Linked DNA regions of Homo sapiens: regions 1 and 3 are each linked to region 2. The links come from fine-mapping of genetic effects on gene expression. A gene starts in region 2. Each other region holds a variant in brackets. All regions are shown on one strand. Distances are from middle to middle.

What was found. PIP is the estimated chance that this variant, and not a neighbour inherited with it, causes the effect.
Region 1: its variant is the best candidate, but not a certain one, in a credible set for the expression of PDHX in T cells (TOPMed, PIP 0.51).
Region 3: its variant is the best candidate, but not a certain one, in a credible set for the expression of PDHX in spinal cord (GTEx, PIP 0.68).

The regions. Positions count from the first base shown.
Region 1 is chr11:34,942,915-34,948,239 of GRCh38, forward strand. PDHX (pyruvate dehydrogenase complex component X) reads left to right here. Exons shown (of 11, transcript NM_003477.3): 3 at 4,592-4,692. Among named protein-coding and RNA genes, the nearest start is that of MIR1343, 3.7 kb to the left of the region's middle. The variant A/G (reference allele first, on the strand shown) is at 2,867.
Region 2 is chr11:34,914,491-34,919,815 of GRCh38, forward strand. PDHX (pyruvate dehydrogenase complex component X) reads left to right here and starts at 2,128. Exons shown (of 11, transcript NM_003477.3): 1 at 2,128-2,325. The coding sequence starts at 2,166. It overlaps APIP (APAF1 interacting protein), which reads right to left and starts at 1,889. Exons shown (of 7, transcript NM_015957.4): 1 at 1,738-1,889. The coding sequence starts at 1,794. RefSeq lists silencers at 1,550-1,889, 1,910-1,959 and an enhancer at 2,130-2,429.
Region 3 is chr11:34,877,144-34,882,468 of GRCh38, forward strand. LOC102723568 (a long non-coding RNA gene) reads left to right here. Exons shown (of 7, transcript XR_007062652.1): 7 at 1-536. It overlaps APIP (APAF1 interacting protein), which reads right to left. Exons shown (of 7, transcript NM_015957.4): 7 at 5,152-5,325. Among named protein-coding and RNA genes, the nearest start is that of APIP, 37 kb to the right of the region's middle. The variant A/G (reference allele first, on the strand shown) is at 2,433.

The DNA.
Region 1 (5,325 bases), 28 kb after region 2:
TATAGTTTTTTAAAAAAGAAAAAAAGGCTATCTTTTTAAATATCAGAAGCATGCTACAAATCAAATGTTAGAAGCAAAAGAAATGTAAAAGATAATTTGATGTATACCTTATGAGGAAATAAGGATTCGTGAAGTTATCATGTTTTTTTCTAAAGCATTTTAATCTAAAATTCATTGGGTATGGTGCATTGGCCATGAAACCTGAGGAATGGGGATGGGAATATAAAACATTTAAGTGTCCTGTCCGTATTGTGAAGAAGCTCATAGTCTAGTAAATAGAGGAAATCACAATTTAAAAAAGTAATTAGCAGTAATATAACATTTTATATGCAATTTGTGATTTTTAAATAAATTAGACCTACTATAGGAATCTGGAATATGAACAAAATTATGTAGGTCAAGTTACTCAGAGAAAGTTATATAGCTGAAGTCGAATCTGTAGTTCTTAAAGTGTGGTTGGAATTTGAATACTGATGAACACAAATGATGATATAGCATCATTTTGTTTTTCTGTGGCTAGAGTCTGTTTTCTAGGCATCTAAGAGGTATTTAATTGCTGGGTTTACTAGTTCTATAGTTTTTCCCGTGATTATAGCAGAAATCTTTGAGGGTGTGCTTTTTTTCCCTTTTGAAGTGCAATCTGTTTTAACCACTAAAACATTTAAAGAAGTATGTAAGATGATATAATCTGACACTGTAGCTTTCTCTATGACATACAAAGGTCATTTTTGGTCTCTTCCTGCATATCTTACCAGCCTAATCTCTCGTCACTTCTCTCGCATACTATTTGCCAGTTTCTCTGAAGTTTCCTGTTCTCTCTGCCTCCAGGGCTATAAGTGTATTACCTTCTACCTGGATCACTGCCTGTTTACAGATTGTCTCCTCCTCACCTCTTCAGGCTCAGAATAGGTGGTCATTGTATTCTAGGAAGCCTTTTCTCACCTTACAAAAACTGAATTAGATGCCCCTCCTGAACATTCCCAAAGCATCCTGACCTCACCTTATCCTGCTGTATTTTCCAGTTTACTTGTCAATGGATATTAAGCAAGCTTCTTGAGGTCAGGAATCTTAAATCTTTGCTGTTATTACTGTCCACTGCTGTATCCTCAGTGCCTACATATGTATATATATTTTATATGTAATATATAAATATATAATACAAATATGTGTGTGTGTGTGTATATATATATAAAATATATTTATATAATTATTATTATTTTTTAGACAGAGTTTTTGCTCTTGTTGCCCAGGCTGGAGTGAAATGGCATGATCTTGACTCACTGCAACCCCCTTCTCCCAGGTTCAAGTGATTCTTCTGCCTCAACCTCCCGAGTAGCTGGGACCACAGGTGCCTGCCACCTCTCCTGGCTAATTTTTGTATTTTTAGTAGGGACGGGGTTTCACAATGTTGGCCAGGCTGGTCTTGAACCCCTGGCCTCAGGTGATCCACCCACCTCGGCCTCCCAAAGTGATGGGATTACAGGTGTGAGCCTACACGCCTGGCCACCCCAATACATTTTTAATAAATGTTTGTTGACTAGGGACATCTCTTTGGAGTTAGACAAAGGACCTTTTAGGTGGTAAATAAATATCATCTAACATATCAATTTATTTTTAAAAATAACTTATATTAGTGTCTCTGAACTATTTAACCTGAAGATATAACTATCAATTTGATCATCTTGGTACACAATGAAGTACTTTCTGTACTGTGAACGTTCAGAGCATATTTGTTAATTTAGTGTTTTAGATTTTCTTTCATATTCTCTTATGATGCTTGCCTGTTAATATTGCTATTCCAGCTATTTTTGGTGTGTGAGGAGGTGTATTTATATGTTACATATTTTTTATCCCCTTGTTTTTTATTCTGTTTTTGTGTTAGGGCTATCTCTTGTAAGCTACATTTACCTAGATTTTATTTTCATATCCATTTTGATAATCTCTACTTTTAATGGGTGATTTTAATCCATTTATATTTATTGTGATTACGGATACATGGGGACTTATTTCTACCATTTTTTGTGCATTTTTGTTTTTATCCTTTGCCTTTTCTTTCCATGTGCCTGCCCTCAGTTAGATAATCAACTTCTTATTTTTCCTCTGTTTTTCTAATGCTGTAGATTATATTTCTGTTTTTAAATTTTAAATTAAATTTTGCCAATAAAGTTTAGTATTATTCAGTATTTTTCTCCTATTATAAGTTGATGCAAAAGTAATTGGGGTTTTTGAAAGTAAGGTGGTAAAAATAAAATTACTTTTGCACCAGCTGAATATATCAAAGTTGTTAGCATGCCTTACCATCTAAACATTTCCTTACCTATCTTATTATTTTTTAGAGTTTGAGTTTTACACTTTTTAAACCCTCAAACATTACTTTAAAAATACTAGTAGTTAACATTTTAGTAATTTTCACAATAACTTGTTTCTTATAGCCCATGGGTTCCATCTGCTTCCACTTTTCTTCTTGATGAACTGCATCTTGTAAGAGCTTTTTAAAGAGATCTTTAATAGGTGGTAAAATTTCCTAGCCTTTATATATCTAAAGAATACTTCTCTTTCATTCTCAAATGATGGTTTGGCAGCATACAAAATTCTAGACAGTTATTTTTCCTCAGTTTTTTGAAGATATTACTTCATTGTTTTCTGACCTCTGTTGCAGCTGCTGAGAAGTGTACTCTCAGTCTTTCCATTGAGGTAATCTGTTTTTTTTCCCCTTTGATAGATTTTTAAAAGATTATGTTTTTATCGTTGATAGAATGCGGTTTCTTTACATTGTATCTAATATGGATTCATGTTTATATAGTCTAATACTCTTTTTTCTGTTTAAGTTTTTATCAAGGTATAACTTGCATAAACTTTAGGCTCA[A/G]TTAAATTTTGTATACATGTATACCCATGTTACCACCACCTAGATCAAGATTTAGAACATTCTTAGCAAGCTACACAGATCCGTATGCCCCCTGCTAGTCAGTACACCTATCCTAAATTCATTCAAAACTCTTTGATGATGAGAGTATACATCTCCAGTTCTGGGAAATTCTCAGCCACTAATTCTTCAGGTATTGCTTCTCCACCAGTGCCTCCAGTGTCTTCCCTCAGAACTCCATTAGCAAACATTGCAGCCTCAGTCTTTGTCACTTAACTGCTCTTTTCTGTTTTTTCGTTTTGTTTTGTTTTTTGTTTTTAATGTTTGTATCTTTTTGTCTGCCTGTATGAAATTCTGCGTAGTTCATTAGTGCTACCTTTCAATTTACTAATTCATACCTTCACTATTCCCTGTCTAGAATATATTCTGTTGTTTCTTTTTATTTCAATTACTTAATTTTTCATTTTTAAGATTTCTAATTCGTTTTTTTATTTCTACCTGATACCATTTTTTTTTAATTTCTTGTTCTTGTGATGGCTCTTTTACTTTCATTTATGTTTTTGGATGTCCTCAAGTACTTATTTTACAATCTTTGACAGATTGCACTAAATAAATTGCTTCTGAAAAGAATTTTTGTTACAATTACTGATTTTGTGGCTTGCTTTCTTAGCTTTTGATTTCTTCGTGTGTCTCAGAACTTTCTTGTGCAATTTACTTTTAAGTGGAAAGTTTATGTTTTAATGTCTTCCCTCCTACGCAGTCCCCCCTCGATCCTTGCCACCATCCAAGGAATTTTGCAATTGATATTGGGGATATTGGCAGATACAGCCCCGGAGCCAGAGGGTGGCTTGACTTTGTTCCTGGTACTGAGGCAGTATTCTGGTCCCCACCTTCCTAGACCCATGGTTGCTGATTAAAATCATAGTCTCAGTCAACAGGTTTTGATTGTGCATTTTATCAGCCTCACATTATGAGTAGAAGAACCCTGACTTAGCCCTAGCTCCAAATAGTGAATCTGATTTGAGTCCCCTATATCCAACAGACTACTTTTAGTTCCCTTTAATCCCCAAAGGAAACTGTTGTACCTCTTTTCCCCTGTTTGCTCCAAACCTGCTCCTAAATCCAGAAGCTAGTAAGCCTGGAACTTCAGGTCTTCCTCCATATTTTTGAGTTTCCAGATATTTTCTGTTGCAGAGAAATGATCTGTATTTGACTTCAGTTGTGTCTTTGATTTTCTCTTTTTATGCTTTATATGCTTTATTCATTTATACTGTGTGCTGCCAACAGGTTTTTTGAACTTGCCCTAAGATGTGAACCCAGAAGTACTGTTAATTGTAAAACTTTTCTTCAGGGAATATAGTCAAAATGTTTGAAAAAGTAAGGGGGATATGGAGTCTGGAATTGATTTGTTCAGAGGTGGATACACATTTGTTGCTGATGTCTTTAAGGTTGATTTCATTTTTACATGCTCAGTAATCTTTGTAATAGCTTTTTTATTATCACAAGTATAATTTATGTCCATTATAGAGCTTTTGGAAATTACAGCAAAGCATACACATACACACACACACACAAACACCCACACATAATGAGAATTACTTGTATTTCCACAACCCAGAAATAGCTACGGAATATTTTGGTATTTATTTATGTTTTATTCATACGTACATATATACATAGTAATATTTATATTTTAAAAAACAAAACAAACCCAGTCTTGTTTTGTAGGTGAAGCGGTGAGTGCTGGAGATGCATTATGTGAAATTGAGACTGACAAAGCTGTGGTTACCTTAGATGCAAGTGATGATGGAATCTTGGCCAAAATCGTGGTAAGTTTTTATTTTAATTTTCTTCAACAGGATGAAGATTTCTTGAGTGGAAAGTTCATTGTAGTAAAATTACCTTTTATTTTTGCCTCCTTATTTTTAATGTGTATTGTCTACTACATAATACATTTTTAGTTCAAGTGTTTAAAATGTTTTAGAGTTAAGGTCTAATAGCCTATTTTTCTGTATTTTCTAAATTTTCTGTAATGTGCGTTATTTTTATAATGGAATATTAGAGCTTATGTGAAAAGTAAGTGAAATAAAATGCGTAGAGCTACATATGGTAGAAACATGACTATTTAGCATTGTGTGGTATATTCCCTGATTGAGCCAACCAGCGTGTTTGTTTCTTAACTTCCAGAACCTTTACTAGGTAGTATGGTGGAGCATCTAAGACTGTGGACTCTGGAATCACCCCGCTGACTGATTCATGTTATATCTAAAAAGTTCTGCCAGTTATTAGTTACGTAATGATAAGCAAATTCTTCATCCCCTGTGCCTTTTTCTTCATGTTAAAGTAGAGATGATAATAATACCTACTTCATAGGACAGTAGGGAAGATTGAGAGAGTACATATATGCTCATCTCAAGACCTGTTACCCAATTGCTCAATAAATGTTACTTTTCCCATTATTA
Region 2 (5,325 bases):
GTACAAAACCAGACAAATACAAATATCTAGAGGGGCTCATGTATTTAACTAGATATGCAAATCCAGTGTGAGTAGTGGAAGCTGTGGTAACCTGGCCAGCACCCTCTGTAAAGGTGGTGTTCACTAGTAACCGCAATCCAGATCCCATGAAAAAATAAGGGCCCAATGTCACCATGTGTTCTGAGGTTTTAAAAGAAGCTGAAATGATTCTGGATTTTGAAATGTTGGCTTGGCAGGGCGTGGTGGCTTACACCTGTAATCCCAGCACTTTGGGCAGCTTAGGGGGGTGGATCACCTGAGATAACGAGTTCGAGACCAGCCTGGCCAACATGGTGAAACCCAGTCTCTACTAAAAATACAAAAATTAACTGGGTGTGGTGACATGCGCCTGTAATCCCAGCTACTTGGGAGGCTGAGGCAGGAAAATCGCTTGAACCAAGGAGGCAGAAGTTGCAGTGAGCTGAGATCACGCCACTGCACTCCAGCCTGGGCAACAAGAGCAAAACGTGTCAAAAAAAAAAAAAAAAAAAAAAAAAGGTTGGCTCAAATTTTTCATGAACATTGAGTGCAGCAAAAAAAAAACATGCCTGTCCACCAAGCTGTCTGTGGGCCATGTTTGGTTTGAGAATCCTAGTTTATTCTCGGGTCCCTTAAGGCTCTCTTTGATGCTCATTCTGATGACATTACACTAAGATTTACTGATTGAGGGTACGGACACTTCTCCATACACACTTGCCCAGGAACGATCTCCAGTTACCTGTCCTGTCTCCAAGATCTTCTCTCTCTCATCCAATCTTGCCTATGCAGCATTCTATTTTCAGAGTCGTCTTTGCTAATTTGGGGAAGTCACTTATTCAAACAAGAAAGTGGTTGACAAATGTTTAGCAATGAAATCTCCCGCGAGTTACTACTTTTTAATTAGGATTTTCAACCCTAAGAAAGATATAGATAGGAGGAATAAGATAGGGGGAATAAGGAAACTAATTTTGAGGGGTTTCCCTGCCTCTTAGGTGGGGTTTATCATATTGTGCTGAAACTGCTTATTCGTCTAGTTCTCCAGACCCTGGGCCATTTATCTTACGTATCCCTATCTCTGAGCGTGTAGAAGGCGCTCCATAAAACTGTTGGTTTGTGTAAATGACCGAAAACTACATGCAGCGTGAGGGTGGATTTCCCTTTGACTTCGGCTTAAGGAAGAATCGTTCCCATGATCATCCCACAATTCATCTAAACGGAGATAGGCAAGGAGCAACTGCTCAAAGGCAAAGCGCTGGCAGCTGAGGCACAGCTCCGGTTCGGCAAACGTCTCCCGAGTGCCAAACGTCCCCCCAAACGCCTAACTGGTCGTCAGGGCGCAGAAAAGAAGCTTGGGGGGCGCGGTCTTCGCCCCAGCTCCACTTCGGTGCTTCACGATTCCTTCTCTGGCCTGCCTTCCTGATAAATACCCGGTGAGGTCACCTAAACGCTCTCCTCTCTCAGTTATTTGCTTCTTTCCAACGTTTGGCGCCCAGCTCCCGCCATCGGAGCGCCCCGCCCGAGACCACTGATCTCCTGGGGCCTCGCAGCCTTGCTTCCGAACGCCAAGGTCGCGGTGCGCCGGGGTAGCGAACGGCCAGGCCCGAAACCCCGCCCCGCAGCTAAACGCCCGGCCCGCTACCCTGCGCCCAGCTCCAGCCGCCGGGTCCCGCCTGGGCCTCTCCTCCTGGGAATACCGGGCACCGGTGGCCCCGCCCCTACCTGCGCGCCGCATCTCCGGGAACAACAGTCTCCCTCCCGAGCATCACAGCCAGACATGGCCCAGACCAGGGACCCGCGCGGCCTCCAATCTCCGCACGGCTTTGCGCGCGGCGCTTAGCCTGGGATACGGCAGCGAGGCCGCAAATGCAATCAGGCGGCGCTGAGGGCAGCCCGGGGGCGGGGCGAACGGGGCGGGGGCCGGGGTCTGGTAAGGCCCCGCCGGCTGAGATATCCAGCGGCGCACCTGACTTCCCGGGAGGCAAGGCCAACGTGGTTGGAGGCGGGGCTGGGTTGGGGGGCGGGGGTTCAAGTCTGAGAGACCTAAAGGCACCGCTAGCGTCTGGGGGCGTGGCCAACCATGCGGGAGGCGGGGCCTTGATGCTGGACATCAGGCTGTGCTGCGGGCAGCCAGTGAGAAGGCCGTCAAGATGGCGGCCTCCTGGAGGCTGGGCTGTGATCCGCGGCTGCTGCGTTATCTTGTGGGCTTCCCCGGCCGCCGAAGCGTAGGGCTGGTGAAGGGGGCTCTTGGGTGGTCTGTAAGCCGCGGAGCTAATTGGAGATGGTTTCACAGCACGCAGTGGCTTCGGGGTGAGTGGCCGGGGCTCGCTCAGCTTCTCTGTGTAGCTGAGTGATGGGCCTGGGACAGGGGCAGTTATGATTGAGGGCCTGCTTTTGGGTGTGAAGGTGCGCGGGCTCCTTATTCCCTTTCCTCTTTCTCCGGTTGGGGTCCGCCGACTTGGCCTAATGCATGCTGTGAAGGGCTTTCTTGGCAGCTGAGAGAACTCGACTCTGCCCTAGGCCCCCTGGTTTGTATGGCTTTGTGACCTTGCCTTGGAATTTGGGTTATTTGTGAGGCGCAGAGAGGGTTCCCAAACTCTCCTCCCTCAGCCCCCTTTCCAATCAAGGCTCAGGTTTCTTTAGGGTTGTCAAACGTCTCGGACGAGAAAAAGCTGCCCAAGGTTGCCGAGATTGAAAAGCCACTGTTGGGAGTTCTTACTTATTCTCTAGGCCTCTCTCTGTTAGGAGGTGTTTTCATTGAGGCCAGTCGAGTTTTACCCCACGCCATGACTCGTGGAAGACTTAAATTTGTAAATTCCTACGGCATCACGATAGACAAAGGTCCAGGAGAATGTTTCAAGCAAATATTCGCTTGAAAGAGCAAACATTTAGGAGATAAATCATACCAAAAATTTATTATAGAAAATTGTTGTTTAGTAATGATATTGATGCAGTTAACACAATTCTTGCAGTATTTAACAGTATGCAAAATGGCAGGCCGGGTATTATTTTTCCTTATTTTGGGAGAAGGTTGGAGGGAGGCGGGGATGGAGAATAGGACTGACGTTTTTTAGTGTGACGTATTACCTGCCAATCATCGTTCCTGGCACTCTACAGAATGAATTTTAATTTAAATAGGTCTAGTAGACGTTGCCTTCATATTCTGAGCTACCTTAGGCTCAGAAAAAAAAAATCACACAAAGTCATATGGTAAGATGAGTGTATTGGGGTTCCTAAAGGTTCCTTAATGGGAACAATTTATTTCATTTTTGGTGTAATGTTTCATAACATATTCCTTGGAGCAGAGGTGCTTTAACAGTGTGTGCAGAATTCCTTCTCTTCCCTCCTCCAAGTTTGTTGAAATTAAACTTTTTTCCAGCTCCTAGAGATTCGGTCTGGTCTGGTGTGGGGCTCAGGAATCTGCATTTTACAAATGTTGGATGAGTTTTGATGTTTTATTTTGACATTTAATGGAATGAGCTTTGAGACTCACTGCCTTAGAAAATCATGGAATATTAAAAGTTTAGTATTGGATATAATCTAGGAAGAGTGCTCTTAATCTTGTTTATCAAGCAGATCCTTTTGAGAATCTTTGAAAATGTTACAGACTCTCTGTACAGAGGAAGTACCATAAATGGTCACACACAAAAATGTGCACGTAGTGGCTCACGCCTGTAATCCCAGCACTTTGGGAGGCGAAGCTGGAAGATTGCTAGAGCCCAGGAGTTGGAGACCAGCCCGGGCAACAAAGTGAGACCCCCGTCTCTACTTAAAAAAAAAAAAAGAAAGAAAAAAAGCCAGGCGTGCTGGCATCCCAGCTACTCCAGGGGCTGAGGCAGGAGGATCCGTTGAACCCAGGAGTTAGACGTTTCATTGAGCTATGATCCTGCCGCTGCACTTTAGCCTGGGTGACAGAGTGAGACCCTGTCTCAGGAGAAAAAAAAAAAAAAGTATACATAGGCCCAGTTTAATGCCTTTAGAAACTCAGTTAGGCAAGCAATCCTTATCTGCATCCTCATGATGCTTTTTTACCTATTCCCTATCCCCTAGACATATACCATGAACAACTTGTCTACCCCAGTTTGAATACCATCTGTCAGGAAGAAGGCATGGCATCTCAAGGAAAGCCAAATTAGTTTTCTAGTGCTGCTGCAACAAATTACCAGAAATTAGTGGCTTAAAACAACACAAATTCACATCTCATAGTTCTAGAGGTCCGAAGTCCAAAATGGATCTAACTAGGCTAAAATCAAGCTATTGGTAGGAGCTGCATTCTTTTCTGGAGGCTCGAGACCCCATTCCCTTAAGTTTTCCAGATTCTAGAGGTTTCTAAGATTCTTTGACTCATGGGCTTCAAAGTCAGCAATGGCTGGTTCAGTCTTTATCACATTACGTCACTCTTAATACTCCCCTCTGCCTTCTGCCACTTACAAGGACCCTTGTGATTACATTGGGCTCATCTGGATGATCCTGAATATTTTCCCCATCTCAAGGTTGAGTAGAAACCTTAATTCCATCTTTAACCTTAATTCCCTCTTGCCATGTAACAGCATATTCATAGGTTCTGGGTATTAGGACGTGAACCTTTTGAGGCATGGCATTCTGCATGTGAAGCTGTGGAAAGTATTTGGAAATACTAAGTATTTGGAAGTGTTGGACTTTTTTCCTAATACCGAGCCAAAATATATCCGCTTCTGACTTTCACCTACATACAGATTTTTGTTTTGCCATGCCGAAAACACGTGGCAATCCTTGAACTATTTGTTTTACAAACTGTGAATTTACGGTGGTGTTTTTTCTCTGAGCTTGGTAGAAACTGTAGTTTTATAAAACTAAACAACTATTTGGATTACTGTAAACTATATAAATTAAGTACATTTATTGAACTGTTTCGTCTTTCACACAAATATCTTTAAAAATTTGTCAGTCGGAACTACCTTTGGAGTTTTAATTTCCTTAAGAGGTGCTGGCAGCATTTTTATGAGCTATGACATATGCCATTTTCTTAGCACTTTCTAGAATTTCTCATTCACTTCTCACATAACCTAGTAAAGTTGGCATCATCTGCATTTAGTTGGACAAAAACACCAAGGCTTAGAGAAATTGAGTCTCCTAAAGACATGTAACTGTGTTGATGAACTGAAGTGCATGTATATATTTATATACATATATTAATTTGTTTAACAAATCTTTAATTTGTATCATTCTCTCAACAGATTTATTGAGAATGCAGAGACTATCTTTTTTACCACTTACATTATTGAAGAATGAGTGAAGAAATTAGCATCTATTAGGTGCCAGGCACATGGT
Region 3 (5,325 bases), 37 kb before region 2:
ATTATTATTATTATTATTTTAAGGCAGAGTCTCACTTTGTCACCCAGGCTGGAGTGCAGTGGTGTGATCTCGGCTGCTCACTACAACCTCCGCCTCCCATGTTAAGCGACTCTCATGCCTCAACCTTACCCATGTTAAGCGACTCTCATGCCTCAACCTTACCAAGTAGCTGGGATTACAGGTGCATGCCACCACAGCTGGCTAAATTTTGTATTTTTTTTTTCATACTTTAAGTTCTGGGGTACATGTGCACAACAAGCAGGTTTGTTACAGATGTACACATGTGCCATGTTGGTGTGCTGCACCCATTAACTTGTCATTTACATTAGGTATATCTCCTAATGCTATCCCTCCCCCCTCCCCCCACCCCACGACAGGCCCCGGTGTGTGATGGATAACATCCTAATATTCTAACATGGTGATGTTAATCACCTCTATGCATATTGTTAAAATATGTATGCAGTTTTACTAAAATGTTAGAGAGAATATGCCTGAAATTTATATAAGGAATAAAAACAGATAAATCAACCTGAAAATGTCCCTATGTTTATTATCTTGAGTAATTTCAAAATGCATGAATAAAATGCATAGATGTGCATTTGCTGAGAGGGATTCATTCATCCAGGTTGAGAAAATGCCATACAATTTAGAGCCAAAGGCCTAGGACAAATTCCCAGCTCTCCTGCTCACAGGTCTTGAGCAAGTTAACCTTTCTGAACCTGTGTCTCATTGTTAACATGAGGGTTTATTCAAAAAGCAAGTATTTTTTGATTGTCTGCTACACGTAGGCACAGGGCTATGGAAATAGATAGGACATGGCCCTGTCTCACTAGAAGCTTATGTTTTTTGGTGGATGGTGATAACACTGACATCAGGATTGCTGACAAGATGACTAGAAGGGTGAAACTGCTTGCTAAACTATAATATTTCATGCAATTATTAAACACAGTTAATGTATAAAGTGATTCATAGTTTGCTACTGGGAAGACTTACACAAATTAAAGACATTTAGTAAAGAGATATCAGAGAAGCTCAACAAGATTTTATAATCCTACTCTTCCCAATTCCTTCCTTTAAGATGTAATACATTACTGATTTATTTATTAACCACCCCATCCATTATTAACCACCCCTTCTATTCTGTCCCAAACAGGAATTTAAGACTTTCTCAGTCCTACTCCATTAACAACAATAACCAATTATGCCCCATAACATAAAAGTTAACATGGCATTCATTCTTCTTAGGCTCAATTCTCTTACAATGGAATTTGGAGGAGGTTACATAGACACTTCTTTTTACTCCTCAATCCCATTTAATATTGCTGGAGAACCAAGAGTCATTCATTCAACATTTATTGATATTTACTTGCTAACGAAGGTTTACAGTAATATCCCTTGAGGGATAAAGATTTCCTACCCAGCCATGGGCAGAAATATTCAGCACCCTGAGGATGCCTACTCCATTCTCTTGCCTGTTGGAACCTTCTTTGGGTGTCCTTTAGATCATTTATATCAAACAGATAAGCTTACAGATGGTCATCAAGGCTTTGACTAGGAGCATTTGACACCAACACAGCACAACTTACTGTTTCATAAGTTTACTCCTTACACTAATGTAGTTTTTTTTGGTGGGGGTGGTGTCTAGGGTATTTTGCTTTTCACCCAGTTTTTATCAAACAATGCAAGCCTAAATGAGCATAAGATTATACACATATAACACTTTTATGTTTAGAGCATGGGAAAGACATGTTTATTAACAGAAAAGTTTAACCATGCATGAGTAAAGAGAACAGATCCTAACTGTCTAGTGGGTTCCAATCACAATGTATTGAGTTATTTTAAAGTTAACCTAAAGGGATTGTATACCAGGAAAATAGTACTTTTCCTTTGCTTGTATTAAAAGCAATAGATGCAATTAAACCTGAAACTGACAATGAACAATTGTGAAACCAATGGAAAAATTTGCAGATGATTTAAAACACATTGTTCAAGATAAAAGGCTGGTGATGACTTGATCAACATCCTCAAAAGAAACAAAACATGATTATTTGAGGACGTGGATAAACACTACTGAATAAATGAAATAATCTTAAGTTCACAAATCACATATACAGCACTATATTTGATGGGTTATTTTAAAGGATTTTTTATGATAATTTTGACTACTGGAAATTTTTACTTAACTTTCAAAGCTCTACTGTATATATATATATAAATTTTCCTGGTTTCATCTCCAAAGATGTGGTCCTTATTGCAATAATGAAGTAGGAAAAGTAAAAGGTACTTACTAAAAGTATGAATAAAATAGTAGAACATATTAAAATTTGTTAGAACCCTAAGTCCCTAATACTCATATCAGAAGCCAAATATACTTTAAGAGCATATTTGTGTTTATAACTTAAGACCACAAAAGAATACCCATTTCAGTGATT[A/G]TTATCCAAAACTTGGTGATTCAGTGCTTATAAATTACAGATCAGTGAAATGGAAACCAAAATCTGTTTTGTTTTGTTTTGTTTTTTGAGATAGAGTCTTGCTCTGTCACCCAAGCTGGAGTGCAGTGGTGCGATCTCAGCTCACTGCACTCTCCACCTCCCTGGTTCAAGTGATTCTTGTGCCTCAGCCTCCGAAGTAGAGGGGACTACAGGTGCCTGCCACCATGCCTGGCTAATTTTTAAAATATTTTTAGTAGAGATGGGGTTTCACCATGTTGGCCAGGCTGATCTCGAAACTCCTGACCTCAGGTGATCCGCCTACTTCAGCCTCCCAAAGTGCTGGGATTACAGGCGTGAGCCACTGTGCTGGGCCTTGTAGTCCTGCTTTAAAGAAACTTGGTGGGAGAATTCAAATTGCCTCTTGAATAGTGATGTCAACATTATTAGTTCCACATCTGACCATCTTGACTAGAACTGCTGATGAGACATGGCAAAATTTTCTCAAAAGGGAGGTATTTGAACAAATTGAGATATAAAATGAAACACTCCTTAAGATTATGACTTTACCTTTCGGATTTTGGGACATTCTCTAGGGAACTATGTTATTTTGAAGTATCTCTCACAAGAAAGTTGGGTGGGACCAAAAGCCTCTAGAATCATTTGAGAAACAAATGATAGTCCCTTATTCAATCTGAGAGTGAATGGCATGTCCTGCACTTAATGAAATAAAAAATGTGTTTGATCTAGATCTCTTAGCAGTTTAATCCTGCATTCATAACCAAATTTTCCTCTTATTTAAAGAAGCTGGAATAACTGAGAGAACAACAATCACAAGGGCATGTGAAGAAGAATGCCTGCTTCCCCCTCCCTCATTCACTGAACACCTATGTGGCAGGCACTGAGGATTAGCTCCCAGCCTGGATTTGTATTCATCTTTGGACCTTGGCTCCTAGCAGTCACACAGGAGGGATCATATTCTTAAAAAAAAAGGATATTAACTAGGGGATACAGCCTTCCACCAGCTGTTCCCCTACCTCTAAAGCAGGTTTTGCAATCTTTTCTGCACTCCCAGGAAAGAAATATACAACTGGAGATGTGCTGCTGCTGCTGTATAGTTTAAATGGTTTACCTGCATGACAATTACTTTGAAGATAGCTAGGTGAGGGGTTTTTAGGAAAGGAAGTTTATATTTTGAGTGCATACATAGTATATGACAGGTACTGTGTTAAGAAGTTTACCTGTTTTCTCTTATTTAAATTCTACATATTTATTATTCCTATCTGAGCCTCAATTTTCTCATCTAAGAAAATAGGTACAATATCTATCTCAAAAGACTATTATGAGGATTAAAAGGGATTTTAAAAAACACTAATATTTATTGAACATCTACACTGGATTAAGCATTGTGGTTTGTTCCTCCACATACTTTATCTTATTCATTAGCTGCATTTTAAAATGAGGAAAATGAAATTAACCAGAGGTGGCTAAAACTATTTTTCCCCAGTGGAAGAACCTCCGCCAAGAATCCAGAAAACAGGCTGGGGGCAGTGGCTCATGCCTGTAATCACAGCACTTTGGGAGGCCGAGGTGGGCGGATCATTTGAGGCCAGGAGTTTGAGACCAGTCTGGCCAACATGGCGAAACCCTGTCTCTACTAAAATACAAAAATTAGCCGGGGGTGGTAGCATGCCTGTGATCCCAGCTACTTGGGAGGCTGAGGCAGGAGAATCGCTTGAACCCAGGAGATGGAGGTTGCAGTAAGCCAAGATGGTGCTACTGCACTCCAGCCTGGGTGACAGAGCAAGACTGTCACAAAAAAAAAAAAAAAAAAAAAAGAAAAAACAAACAAACCCAGATACAGGCAAGGTTGCAGGGAAAAGGGAACCCTTACATAGTGTTGGTAGGAGTGCAAATTAGTTCAAACATTGTGGAAAGCAGTATGGCAATTCCTCAAAGAGCTAAAAGCAGAACAACCATTTGACCCAGCAATCCTATTATTACTGGGTATATACCTGAAGGAATATAAAGCATTCTACCATAACGACACATGCACACAAATGTTCACTGCAGCACTATTCACAAGAGTAAAGACACGGAATCAACCTAAATGCCCATCAGTGACAGAATGGATAAGGAAAATATGGTACATATACACCATGGAATATTATGCAGCCATAGAAAAGAACAAGATTATGTCTTTTGCGGGAACATGGATGGAGCTGGAGGCTATTATTCTTAGCAAACTAACACAGTAACAGAAAACCAAATACTGCATGTTCTCACTTCTAAGTGGGAGCTAAATGGCAATAACTTATGACTACAAAGAAGGAAACAACAGACACTGGGGTCTACTTGATGGCGGAGGGTGGGAGGAGGAAGAAGAGCATAAAAGATAACTATTGGATACTGAACTTAATACCCGGGTGATGTAATAATATGTACAACAAACCCCTGTGACATGTGTTTGTCTATGTAACAAACCTTCATGTGGGCCCCCAAACCTAAAATTTAAAACAATTTTAAAGAAAGGACTTTCTGATTACATCATCGGTTTGATCAAGATTTGTTTGGTTAAGGGAATTTGAGTTGATACCACCTGACCTGAATTTCACAACTGATCCCAATATAAAATGAGTGTCCTGTTGTAGACCACAGGGAAACACTAAAGCTAATAGGGGAAATCTATAAAATTATTTTGACATTAACATTGAGGGATAAATTTGGACTTAATGTTTCATATTTATTTTCTGACACCAACATTAAAACAAGAGAATGCTCATTCCACAATGAGGAAATTTTCTAATGAATTTTATTATCACCAGCATCTTTAAAAATTAAGAGGAATTCTCTGAGAGTATATATAAAAAAGAAATTAAAGGCAAATATTTTGCTG